Linked DNA regions of Homo sapiens. The protein of the gene in region 1 purifies or fractionates together with the protein of each later gene. This does not show direct contact. Each region holds a gene or a part of one and is shown on either strand. Other genes may lie near its edges. The genes, in order: SLC25A18, FAM83B and KIAA1671.

Region 1 (4,190 bases):
TATACAGGGCTTGGTGGGTGATTAAACACGCCAGAGGCAGGTATCAGATTTGAAACACGCATCAGCAGGAGGAAGATACATTATCCCCCCACTGAGAGTGTTAGAAGCAGGGGGTAGGTAAGGAGACGGGGAGGGAAGAGAAGTTTGGCAGCTGACATGAGCTTAAAGTAGCAGTTGCAGATGAGGGGGTGACAGCAGGCACCAGAAACAGCGGTGCAGTGCCGTGTCACACCCACAAGCATGGTTCAAAAAAATAGAGATCGGCATTGGTGCGGATGTAGAGAATTGGAACCCTTGCTGGTGAGAATGTAAAACACGGCAGCCATGGTGGAAGACAGTATGGCAGGTCCTCAAAAAAGTAAACACAGAGGCCAGGTGCGGTGGCTCACGCCTGTAATCCTTGTGCTTTGGGAGGCTGAGGTGGGAGGATCACTAGAGCCTGGGAGTTTGAGACCAGCCTGGGAAACATCCAAGACCCCATCTCTTTATTTTTTGAGACGGAGCTTCACTCTTGTTGCCCAGGCTGGAGTGCAATGGCACGATCTCGGCTCACTGAAACCTCTACCTCCTGGGTTCAAGTGATTCTCCTGCCTCAGCCTCCGGAGAAGCTGGGATTACAGGCATGCCCCATCATGCCCGGCTAATTTTGTGTTTTTAGTAGAGACGGGGTTTCTCCATGTTTGTCAGGCTGGTCTTGAACTCCCCACCTCAGGTGATCTGCCTGCCTCGGCCTCCCAAAGTGCTGGTATTACAGGCGTGAGCCAACACACCTGTCCAAAAATTTTTTTAAAAAATTACTCAAAAAAACCCCAAACAAAAAATTAGCCAGGCGCTGCGGTGTGTGTCTGTAGTTCTAGCTACTTGGGAGGTCGAGGAAGGAGGATCATTTGAGCCCTGGGGTTGGAGGCTGCAGTGAGCTATGATCATACCACTGCACTTCAACTTGGCAAGACCCTATCTCTATTAAAAAATAGAAAATTTGGCAGGGCGTGGTGGCTCACGCCTGTAATCCCAGCACTTTGGGAGCCCGAGGTGGGTGGATCACGAGGTCAGGAGATCGAGACCATCCTGGCCAACATGGCAAAACCCCGTCTCTACTAAAAAATACAAAAAATTAGCTGGGTATAGTGGCAGGCACCTGTAGTCCCAGCTACTCGGGAGGCTGAGGCAGGAGAATGGCGTGAACCCGGGGGGGCGGAGTTTACAGTGAACCGAGATTGTGCCACTGTACTCCAGCCTGGGTGACAGAGCAAGACTGTCTCAAAAACAAAACAAAACAAAACAAAACAAAAACAGAATGAGTCTGCACAGAGTGACAAATGAGGCTGCAGGCAGAAATAAGAGCATCCCGAGGGAGGGCTCCTGGGCTCAAGCGATCCACCCACCTCACCCTCCTGAGTAGCTGGGATCACAGGTGCACACCATCAACCTGGCTAATTAAAACAATTATTTTTTTGTAGAGGTGGGGCCTCATTATGTTGCCTGGGCCTGATTTTTTTTTTTTGGAGACAGAGTCTTGCTCTGTCCCCCAGGCTGGAGTGCACTGGCTCAATCTTGGCTCACTACAACGTCCATCTCCCAGGTTCAAGTGAGTTTCCTGCCTCAGCCTCCCGAGTAGCTGGGACTACCACACCTGCTACCACGCCTGGCTAATTTTTTGTATTTTTAGTATAGATGGGGTTTCACGTTAGCCAGGATGGTCTCCATCTCTTGACCTCGTGATCCGCCCGCCTTGGCCTCCCAAAGTGCTGGGATTACAGGTGTGAGCCACCGCGCCCCAGCCAACTTAAGTCCTTTCTAAAAATTTTTTTTACTTTATATAAACTGTTTGTATTCTTTTTTCTATGCTATGCCTCAGGTTTGAAGATGTTCAGCTCAGATTACCTGCATCTAAGGACCAAAATGTAAATGCCAGGGCCATTCTTCCAGGTCAGTTTGCATCAGAACCATGCAGGTTGCATCTGTTGCTAGTTACAAGAGAGAGCTAGGCCCTTCTTCAGTTTAAGGTCTTAGGCGGGATGCCAAAATCTGCATTTCCAGCAAGTTCCCAGATGATGGCCAGGCTACATTGTGAGAACATCACAATAGATCATGTGAGTGAGAATGATCAGGGCAGGCTGAGGTGGTGGGGAGAGGAACACCATCACTTCTCCCAAGCTGCAGTTTCTGCAGATCTACGCTGCCTTTGGGAAATGTTTAGCATCACACTGGACATAATTACTTGCGCTGCATTTTCTGAATTACACAGTCTTCGTCTTAGAGTGGAGCCAGGGCAAAAGAGGAATTCAAGCTGGAACAAGGAGTCCGAGAAGACGCGACTGCTGGACAGAACAAGCGATGAAGCCAGTCCCCAAACTGATGAGCCCGCAGCTCCATCCAAATTAAATGGGCTGAGAACACCAACACTCCACCCTCCCGGTACGATTGCATGGCAGGGAGGAACCAAAAATATTTTTCCTTCATCTGCTATCTCAGCTAAGCAGTACACTCTTTCTAGCACCTCACTAGAGTCCAGTTTTTCTGTATTCTGTATTCACAATACAGGTTTATTATGAACTCTGAGCAGATGAGGCTATTTTTCCCCCTTTTGGTTTCTTAGTAACTAGGCAAAGTACAAGGCTCACGGTGGGTATTTAATAAATACTTACTGACAACTTGCCTGCAAGCGAGTCGACGTTCATCTCAGTTGTTGAGGCACTCACGGGCCAGGCTTCACTCGACTCTTCTCACTGCCTACTCAGTTCCTTCTCAAAGCAAAGCCCGTGGATATATCCAAGGAACTGGCTTCATTGCTTTTAAAAATTCTGTCCAGCTTTAACTGGCTAGAATAGGGGTCCTCGTCCTTGTCATATGCTGTCCAGAATGAAGTCCAAATCCAGGATTCTGGGAGCATGTCATGCTTTCTCGAACCTGCAGGAGTCTCAAGGGCACCTGCATTGATATGCATGTCATGGCTGTAGAAGGGGGCTGGCATTGCAGCACACAATAGCCAAATCTGGGGATTTTCCAGATGCCTTCGCCTTCTTGGCTAGTATTTTTCACTGAAGGTTTTTTATAAAACTGCTTAAGGAAACTAGGGGAGTGAGCATTGCTAGCAGAAAGGGGACTAAAATAGATGCACAGAGGTCCCTTAAAAGTCCAAAGGAACACCACGAGGCCAGGGAAACATCTGCAGGGTCAATGCAGAGAAATCAACAGCAGTTGTGGGGGAGGACAGTGAAGGCAGCCACACAGCAGGCAGCTGCTGCTGGGTCACCCAGGGCTCTGCCGCGGCTCCATGAGCGCCCAGAAGGAAAGGTCCCATGATACCTCTTGCATAACAACTGCATGACATAGGCCGTTCACCTTCCAGGAAGATTCCAGGGTAAAGATCAGCCCCCAAATAGCCCGTCTGGATGGTTATTTTCTCAATTCCGTTGGTAGCACTCTCAGAGAACATAGAGTATAGCAAAATGGAGCCCACAAAGGGGCTGATTTATAAAACTTGCGTTGCCTTTCCTTCCAGTAACACGAATTGGTTTAGAGACAAGAGACATTAATCTTTAACAAGAGAAGCACCTATGGATGTCTCCAAATGTCAAAATAGAAAGTTGATCAGAACTTTTGAGACTAATCTACAGTAACAATGTATAGCTTCCTGTCTCCCTAAATCTTGCCCGAGTAGCTTTTATGCTCTTATTTTAAGAAGCTCACTGTGTAGGATTATCTGTGTAAGATATATTTACCCAGGATGCTTAACAAGCGTTAAACAGTAACAGTTCCAAAAATAGAGCCACATTTACACTGCCTACTGCACTGTTTTGAAACAGTTAACCAGTGGAAGATGCTAACTTTTGGTACATATATTTGTTGCTGGTTTTGGCCCGAAGAAGATAAATCTGGAAGCACTCTAAATGGCTAAGTTCCTTATAAAAAATAAAGGCCGGGCACAGTGGCTCACGCCTGTAATTCCTAGCACTTCGGGAGGCTGAGGCAGACAGATCACTTGAGCTCAGTTCTAGACCAGCCTGGGCAACATCGTGAGACAAAAAATTAGCTGGGTGTGGTGGGGTGCCCCTGTAGTCCCAGCTGCTTGGGAGGCTGTGGTGAGAGGACTGCTTGAGCCCGGGAGATTGAGGCTGCAGTGAGCTGAGACCATGCCACTGTACCTAGCCTGGGCAACAGAGTGAAACCCTGTCTCAAGAAAAATT
Region 2 (2,566 bases), on another chromosome or scaffold:
AAAGAGGTCCCAGACACCCCTACGAATGTACAGCATTTGACAGACAAACCCTTGCCAGAATCAATCCCCAAGCTCCCATTGCAGTCAGAGGCACCAAAAATGCACACCTTGCAGGTTCCTGAAAACCACTCAGTAGCCTTAAACCAAACTACAAATGGCCATACTGAATCAAATAACTATATATATAAAACCTTGGGTGTAAATAAGCAGACAGAAAATCTAAAGAATCAACAGACTGAGAATCTACTTAAAAGGCGAAGTTTCCCGTTATTTGACAACTCAAAAGCCAACTTAGATCCTGGAAATAGTAAGCATTATGTATATAGTACACTTACCAGGAATCGAGTTAGACAACCAGAAAAGCCCAAAGAAGATTTGCTGAAAAGTTCTAAAAGCATGCACAATGTGACTCATAACTTGGAGGAGGATGAGGAGGAAGTTACCAAGAGAAACTCTCCAAGTGGCACTACTACCAAATCAGTTTCCATTGCTGCTTTACTTGATGTGAATAAAGAGGAATCTAACAAAGAACTTGCTTCAAAGAAGGAAGTTAAGGGTTCCCCAAGTTTTTTGAAAAAGGGGTCTCAGAAGTTAAGGTCATTACTTAGCCTTACCCCAGATAAGAAAGAAAATCTATCCAAAAATAAAGCACCTGCCTTTTATAGATTGTGTAGTAGCTCTGACACATTAGTTTCTGAGGGTGAAGAAAATCAAAAACCAAAGAAATCAGACACAAAAGTTGATTCATCTCCTAGAAGAAAGCATTCTTCCTCATCGAATTCTCAAGGCAGCATCCACAAGAGTAAGGAAGATGTAACAGTTAGCCCATCTCAAGAGATAAATGCTCCACCAGATGAAAATAAAAGAACACCTTCTCCAGGTCCAGTTGAAAGCAAGTTCTTGGAAAGGGCAGGAGATGCCTCTGCCCCAAGATTTAACACTGAACAGATCCAATACCGAGATTCAAGGGAGATTAATGCAGTTGTTACCCCTGAAAGAAGACCTACTTCTTCTCCAAGGCCAACGTCCAGTGAGCTTCTACGATCTCATTCAACTGATCGGCGTGTTTACAGTCGTTTTGAGCCGTTTTGTAAGATTGAGAGCTCTATTCAGCCAACAAGCAACATGCCAAATACCAGTATAAATCGCCCAGAAATAAAATCTGCGACTATGGGCAACAGTTATGGCAGGTCTAGTCCATTGCTTAATTACAACACTGGTGTTTATCGCTCATATCAACCCAATGAGAACAAGTTTCGAGGATTTATGCAAAAGTTTGGAAACTTTATACACAAAAATAAATAGCTATTAAAATGCAAAATGAATGAGGCTATCAATATTTGTCCAAAGAAAATTGTGGACAGTCTTTGTAACATGCCAATAGATTTTCCTAAGGACAGAATTATGGGTATGATGTATATGTTCACCAGTGTCCTAGTATAAAGTTATTTTTCTGTGTGATAAAGTTAGGGTCTGCTGTAGATAGAATTTCTCTGTAAACACATTATTTGTAAGTGGTAATGGTAAAAATAATAGATGTATTTAAATCATTTTCTTTAGACTGAAGATTTTAAGTCTCACTTAGAAATTTTTGTGGACGATGTATGGTGTATGGTGTATGGTGTATGGATTTTAACCATTTCCTTTTAAAAAGGTCATACTACCCTCAGTAACCCTTTATAACATGTGTTTATAGTGTTTTCATATCTTCAAAAATATAAGCAAATGGGACAAAGCCCTTTTTTAAGATTAACTTGAAGTTCTACGGGATAACTTGTTATATTTTATTAATATTATTTTTTCTGTGGATCATTGTACAGCTGTTTGGGCAACAGCAGTACCTTTTACATTTTTTATTTTTTATTTTTTTTTCTGCCTGAAGTGTTTGCAAAGTATCAGCCTCATGTAGTATAATGACATTCGTAGGAATTTATTTTCCTCAGCCTTTGAAAACGGTCTGGGATGTGCTTCTTTCTACACTGGACCCAGGGAGCTGTCCCCCTCTTACCCATAGGCTGCTGATTTTTTATAGTCATTCCTTACTTCACATTTAGGACAAACCAGTAGGAATTTAGAAAATCTGAATGATTCCCCCTCCTTTTTCTATTGTATAAAAGCTTTTAGAAATGTAAATTTCTGCCTAAATTTTTGTTAGATTGGCATGACAATGCTAAGGGGTCTTGCTTGCGAAAATTCTTGCTCTTTTTTTTTTTCTTTTGAGATGGAGTCTCGCTCTGTCACCCAGGCTAGAGTGCAGTGGCGCAATCTTGGCTCACTGCAACCTCTGCCTCCCAAGTTCAAACGATTCTCCTGCCTCAGCCTCCTGAGTAGCTGGGATTACAGGTGCGCACCACCACACCCGGCTAATTTTTGTATTTTCAGAAGAGATGGGATTTCACCATGTTGGCCAGTCTAGTCTCAAACTCCTGACCTCGTGATCCTCCCGCCTCGGCCTCCCAGAGTGCTGGGATTACAGGTCTTGCTCTTCTTTAAGTTGTGCCAAATATGATATGACTGCATAGTGTTTTTGTAAGAATACCATTGGGAAAATGAGAAGTTTTACTGG
Region 3 (3,652 bases), 7.5 Mb from region 1:
TTCCCATACTGCCAGAACTCCGGAACTGAGGCTGTCATCCTGTGTCTCCTTAGACCTGCTGAAACTCAGCCTGCTGGGACGAGTCTTCTTTCCCCCTTCTTGTTTCTGCCATGGAAGTGTGTGGACAGCCCCATTCATGATGACATGTGACACTACTGGCTTTTCCCGGCAGTCACACCCCCTGACCCAGGGCCTGCCAGCTTGGGTAAGTGGGGCCCATGCTTGACCCAAGCTTGAGGGCTGGAGTGTCCAAGGGCATGGAGAGTGCCTGTGAGTTCTGCCAGAGAATTTTCTCTCTGTCCTTTGAATCCTGTCATTGTTCTGTGTCTCATGTCCTGGCTATTACATATGTATCCTCAATCAGGGTTTCCAGAGGTCACAGCTGCTCTCCCAAAAGGCCAATGGCCCTGATTCTGGGTGGGATTCTGGAGCCTTAGAACTCTGGTTGGGATCTTTGTGTATGGAAATTCTCCAATTCTCAGATTCTTCATATCTGTCCCTCCATTCTACCTCTAACCGTGTCTAGACAGTGTTCTCCAGTTTGGGGAGATGGAATCTGTTAGCACCATCGAGCGTGTAAGGAAGAGAAAATATCAAAATCTGTCTGCCTTTCTTTCCTGGAGGCTGCTGAGTGAGTCAGAGCCGGGGGAGCAGTGTGGGGCCCCAAGGAAGGGAAGTGGAGAGGCTTGTGTTTAACTAAAATACCTTCTACTTTTTTAGTCCATCTAGGTGGGGGCTGGCTGGGGGCAGTTTCACAGGGAAGAAAACACTGGCATGAAGAGAGCCTGGGGGATCGAGAACAGCAACTTACCTGGCACTTTTTAAGACCAGAAAGGAATAAAAAATAATTTTTAAAAAGACAGAGCTGAGGCTGGGTGTGGTGGCTCAAGCCTGTAATCTCAGCACTTTGGGAGGCTGAGGTGGGCGGATCCCCTGAGGTCAGGAGTTCGAGACCAGCCTGGCCAACATGGAGAAACCCCACCTCTACTAAAACCACAAAATTACCTGGGCGTGGTGGCACATGCCTGTAATCCCAGCTACTCCGGAAGCTGAGGCAGGAGAATGGCTTGAACCTGGGAGGCAGAAGTTGCTGTGAGCCAAGGTCGCGCCATTGCACTCCAGCCTGGGCAGCAAGAGTGAAACTTGGTCTCAAAAAAAAAAAAAGACAGAGCTAAGTGGGTGGTGGACTTGAGGTTAGGTTTCAGCTGGGTGATCGTAGGCAAGTCTGGCGACCTCTCTGGGCCCTTTCCCTTCATCTCCATGAGGGAGATAACGATCATTCCTTCATTCTTGACTTTTGGAGTTGCTGGAGGGTTAATGAGAGAGGAGGTCCCCTGCTTTGCGAAAACAGATCTCATAGCAGGGTGAACAAGAGGCTTATGCCCCAAGCTACTACAAAATGGGGTCTCCTAATTGTACCCACTAAATAGGGTTGTGAGGAGGATGAGATGTATAAAACACAAGAAGCATGTGGCATAGCTCGAGATCTCACTCATGGGAAGACCTCACTGTTGGGCGTTTCTCTTTCTATTAAGAGTATGAAGGCAGTCAGCATAATATGCGTGTTCAACAGAAAAGAACCACAAAGCAAACAAATAATGAAAGCAGGTTGAGTGAGAAAAATGAGAATGGCTTCTTTTTATGGCATCTGGAAGGGTGGGGGAGGGGAAAGAAAAGGGACAAAGGGATGATTGGGTGGGGTTGGTGCCTAGGGCATGGGTTCCAAGGTCACTAACCAGCTTTGTGCTCCCAGGCACTCCTGAGCTGCATTGCTGTGTGACCTGCAGCAGGTTACTTGCCTTCTCTGTGCTAGATGCTTAGCACACACTTGTGATTAGGATCACCTGGGATGTGGGCAGGCTCTGCAGTGGGAAAACAGGGTAACAGGAGTGAGGGAATGTGAGGACGCTCCCACTGAGGCCTATTCAGGGAGGAGCATGTGTGGTGTGAATTTGGTGTCAAACCTGGTTTTAAGTCCTGACTTCGCCTCTTGCTTCCTGGGTGACTCCAGTTACTTGGCCTCTCTGAGCTGGTTTCCTTATCTGTGTAGCAGAGATCACTGCTTTTTGCCATTAAGTGCTGGCCTCTAGATTAGCTGTCAGGGGAAAGTCCTCCAGAGTGTTGATGCCTTTTCTACACCCTTGGAGCTGGAACGAACTTCAGGGATGGGCGTTTAGTCCACTCCCCTCGTCCAGAGCTCAGAGACGGGGAGAGGCAGGCCCAAGCCTGCCGGGTGAGGTCAGCAGAGGGCTGTCGTATGGAATCTGGGGCTCAGGACTCTGTCCCATTTCTCTAAACCATTCTGCTTCAACCCAGACACTGACTGTTTTCCAAATTTACTTGTTTGTTTGTTTTGTTTGTTTAGCAATTGCTTCTCCATTCTTGAAGTTCCTAACCCCCATGAATCCACAACCATAACCATGGCCACGCGGGTCGAGGTGGGCTCCATAACGCCCTTGACGGCCGTGCCAGGCCTGGGTGAGATGGGCAAGGAGGAGACCCTGACGAGGACCTACTTCCTCCAGGCCGGCGAAGCCTCTGGGGCTCCCCCAGCCCGGATCTTGGAAGCGAAGAGCCCCCTGCGGAGCCCGGCCCGGTTACTCCCTCTGCCAAGGCTCGCCCCCAAACCCTTCTCGAAGGAGCAGGACGTGAAATCTCCTGTCCCGTCTCTGCGGCCCAGTTCGACTGGACCTTCCCCCTCTGGGGGGCTCTCTGAGGAGCCAGCAGCAAAGGATCTGGACAACAGGATGCCCGGCTTGGTGGGGCAGGAGGTGGGCAGTGGGGAGGGCCCGAGGACGAGCTCGCCCCTCTTCAACAAGGCTGTGTTCCTGCGGCCCAGCTCCAGCACCATGATTCTCTTCGAAACCACCAAAAGCGGCCCCGCTCTGGGGAAGGCGGTTAGTGAGGGGGCGGAGGAGGCCAAGCTAGGTGTGTCCGGCTCCCGGCCTGAGGTGGCTGCCAAGCCCGCCCTGCCCACCCAGAAGCCTGCGGGGACCCTTCCCCGGTCAGCTCCCCTGTCTCAGGACACAAAACCACCTGTACCCCAAGAGGAGGCAGGCCAAGACCATCCTCCCTCAAAGGCCAGCAGTGTGGAGGACACGGCACGCCCCCTTGTGGAGCCCAGGCCTCGCCTGAAGAGAAGGCCCGTGTCTGCCATTTTCACGGAGTCCATTCAGCCTCAGAAGCCAGGCCCCGGCGCAGCGGCCACAGTGGGCAAAGTGCCACCCACCCCTCCCGAGAAGACGTGGGTGAGGAAGCCCAGGCCCTTGTCCATGGACCTCACGGCCCGGTTTGAGAACAAAGAGGCCTTGCTGAGGAAGGTGGCCGATGAAGGAAGTGGACCCACAGCAGGGGATATGGCTGGGCTAGAGAGGCCCAGAGCAGCGTCCAAGCTGGACAGGGACTGTTTGGTCAAGGCGGAGGCTCCTCTTCATGATCCTGATTTGGACTTCCTGGAGGTGGCCAAGAAAATCCGTGAACGGAAGGAGAAGATGCTTTCGAAGCCGGAGATGGGCAGCCCCAGAGCCCTGGTGGGGGGCTCATCTGGGGTCACCCCCAGCAATGACCAGAGTCCCTGGGAAGAAAAGGCCAAGCTGGACCCAGAGCCAGAGAAGGCTGCTGAGTCCCCCTCACCCAGGCTGGGAAGGGGCCT

Evidence for each region.
Region 2: the proteins of SLC25A18 (region 1) and FAM83B purify together in Homo sapiens (affinity purification with mass spectrometry; one large-scale study listed by BioGRID and IntAct). This does not show direct contact.
Region 3: the proteins of SLC25A18 (region 1) and KIAA1671 purify together in Homo sapiens (affinity purification with mass spectrometry; one large-scale study listed by BioGRID and IntAct). This does not show direct contact.

What each region holds. Positions count from the first base shown.
Region 1 is NC_000022.11:17,562,172-17,566,361, reverse strand, and holds the start of SLC25A18 (mitochondrial glutamate carrier 2), read right to left. Parts: upstream 2,865-4,190; 5' UTR 2,649-2,864; exon of another isoform or gene 2,249-2,648; intron 2,094-2,248; exon of another isoform or gene 1,859-2,093; intron 1-1,858. UniProt on the Homo sapiens protein: Responsible for the transport of glutamate from the cytosol into the mitochondrial matrix with the concomitant import of a proton (symport system).
Region 2 is NC_000006.12:54,940,703-54,943,268, forward strand, and holds part of FAM83B (protein FAM83B), read left to right. Parts: coding exon 1-1,305; 3' UTR 1,306-2,566. UniProt on the Homo sapiens protein: Probable proto-oncogene that functions in the epidermal growth factor receptor/EGFR signaling pathway. Activates both the EGFR itself and downstream RAS/MAPK and PI3K/AKT/TOR signaling cascades.
Region 3 is NC_000022.11:25,025,580-25,029,231, forward strand, and holds part of KIAA1671 (uncharacterized protein KIAA1671), read left to right. Parts: intron 1-53; 5' UTR 54-205; intron 206-2,365; 5' UTR 2,366-2,420; coding exon 2,421-3,652.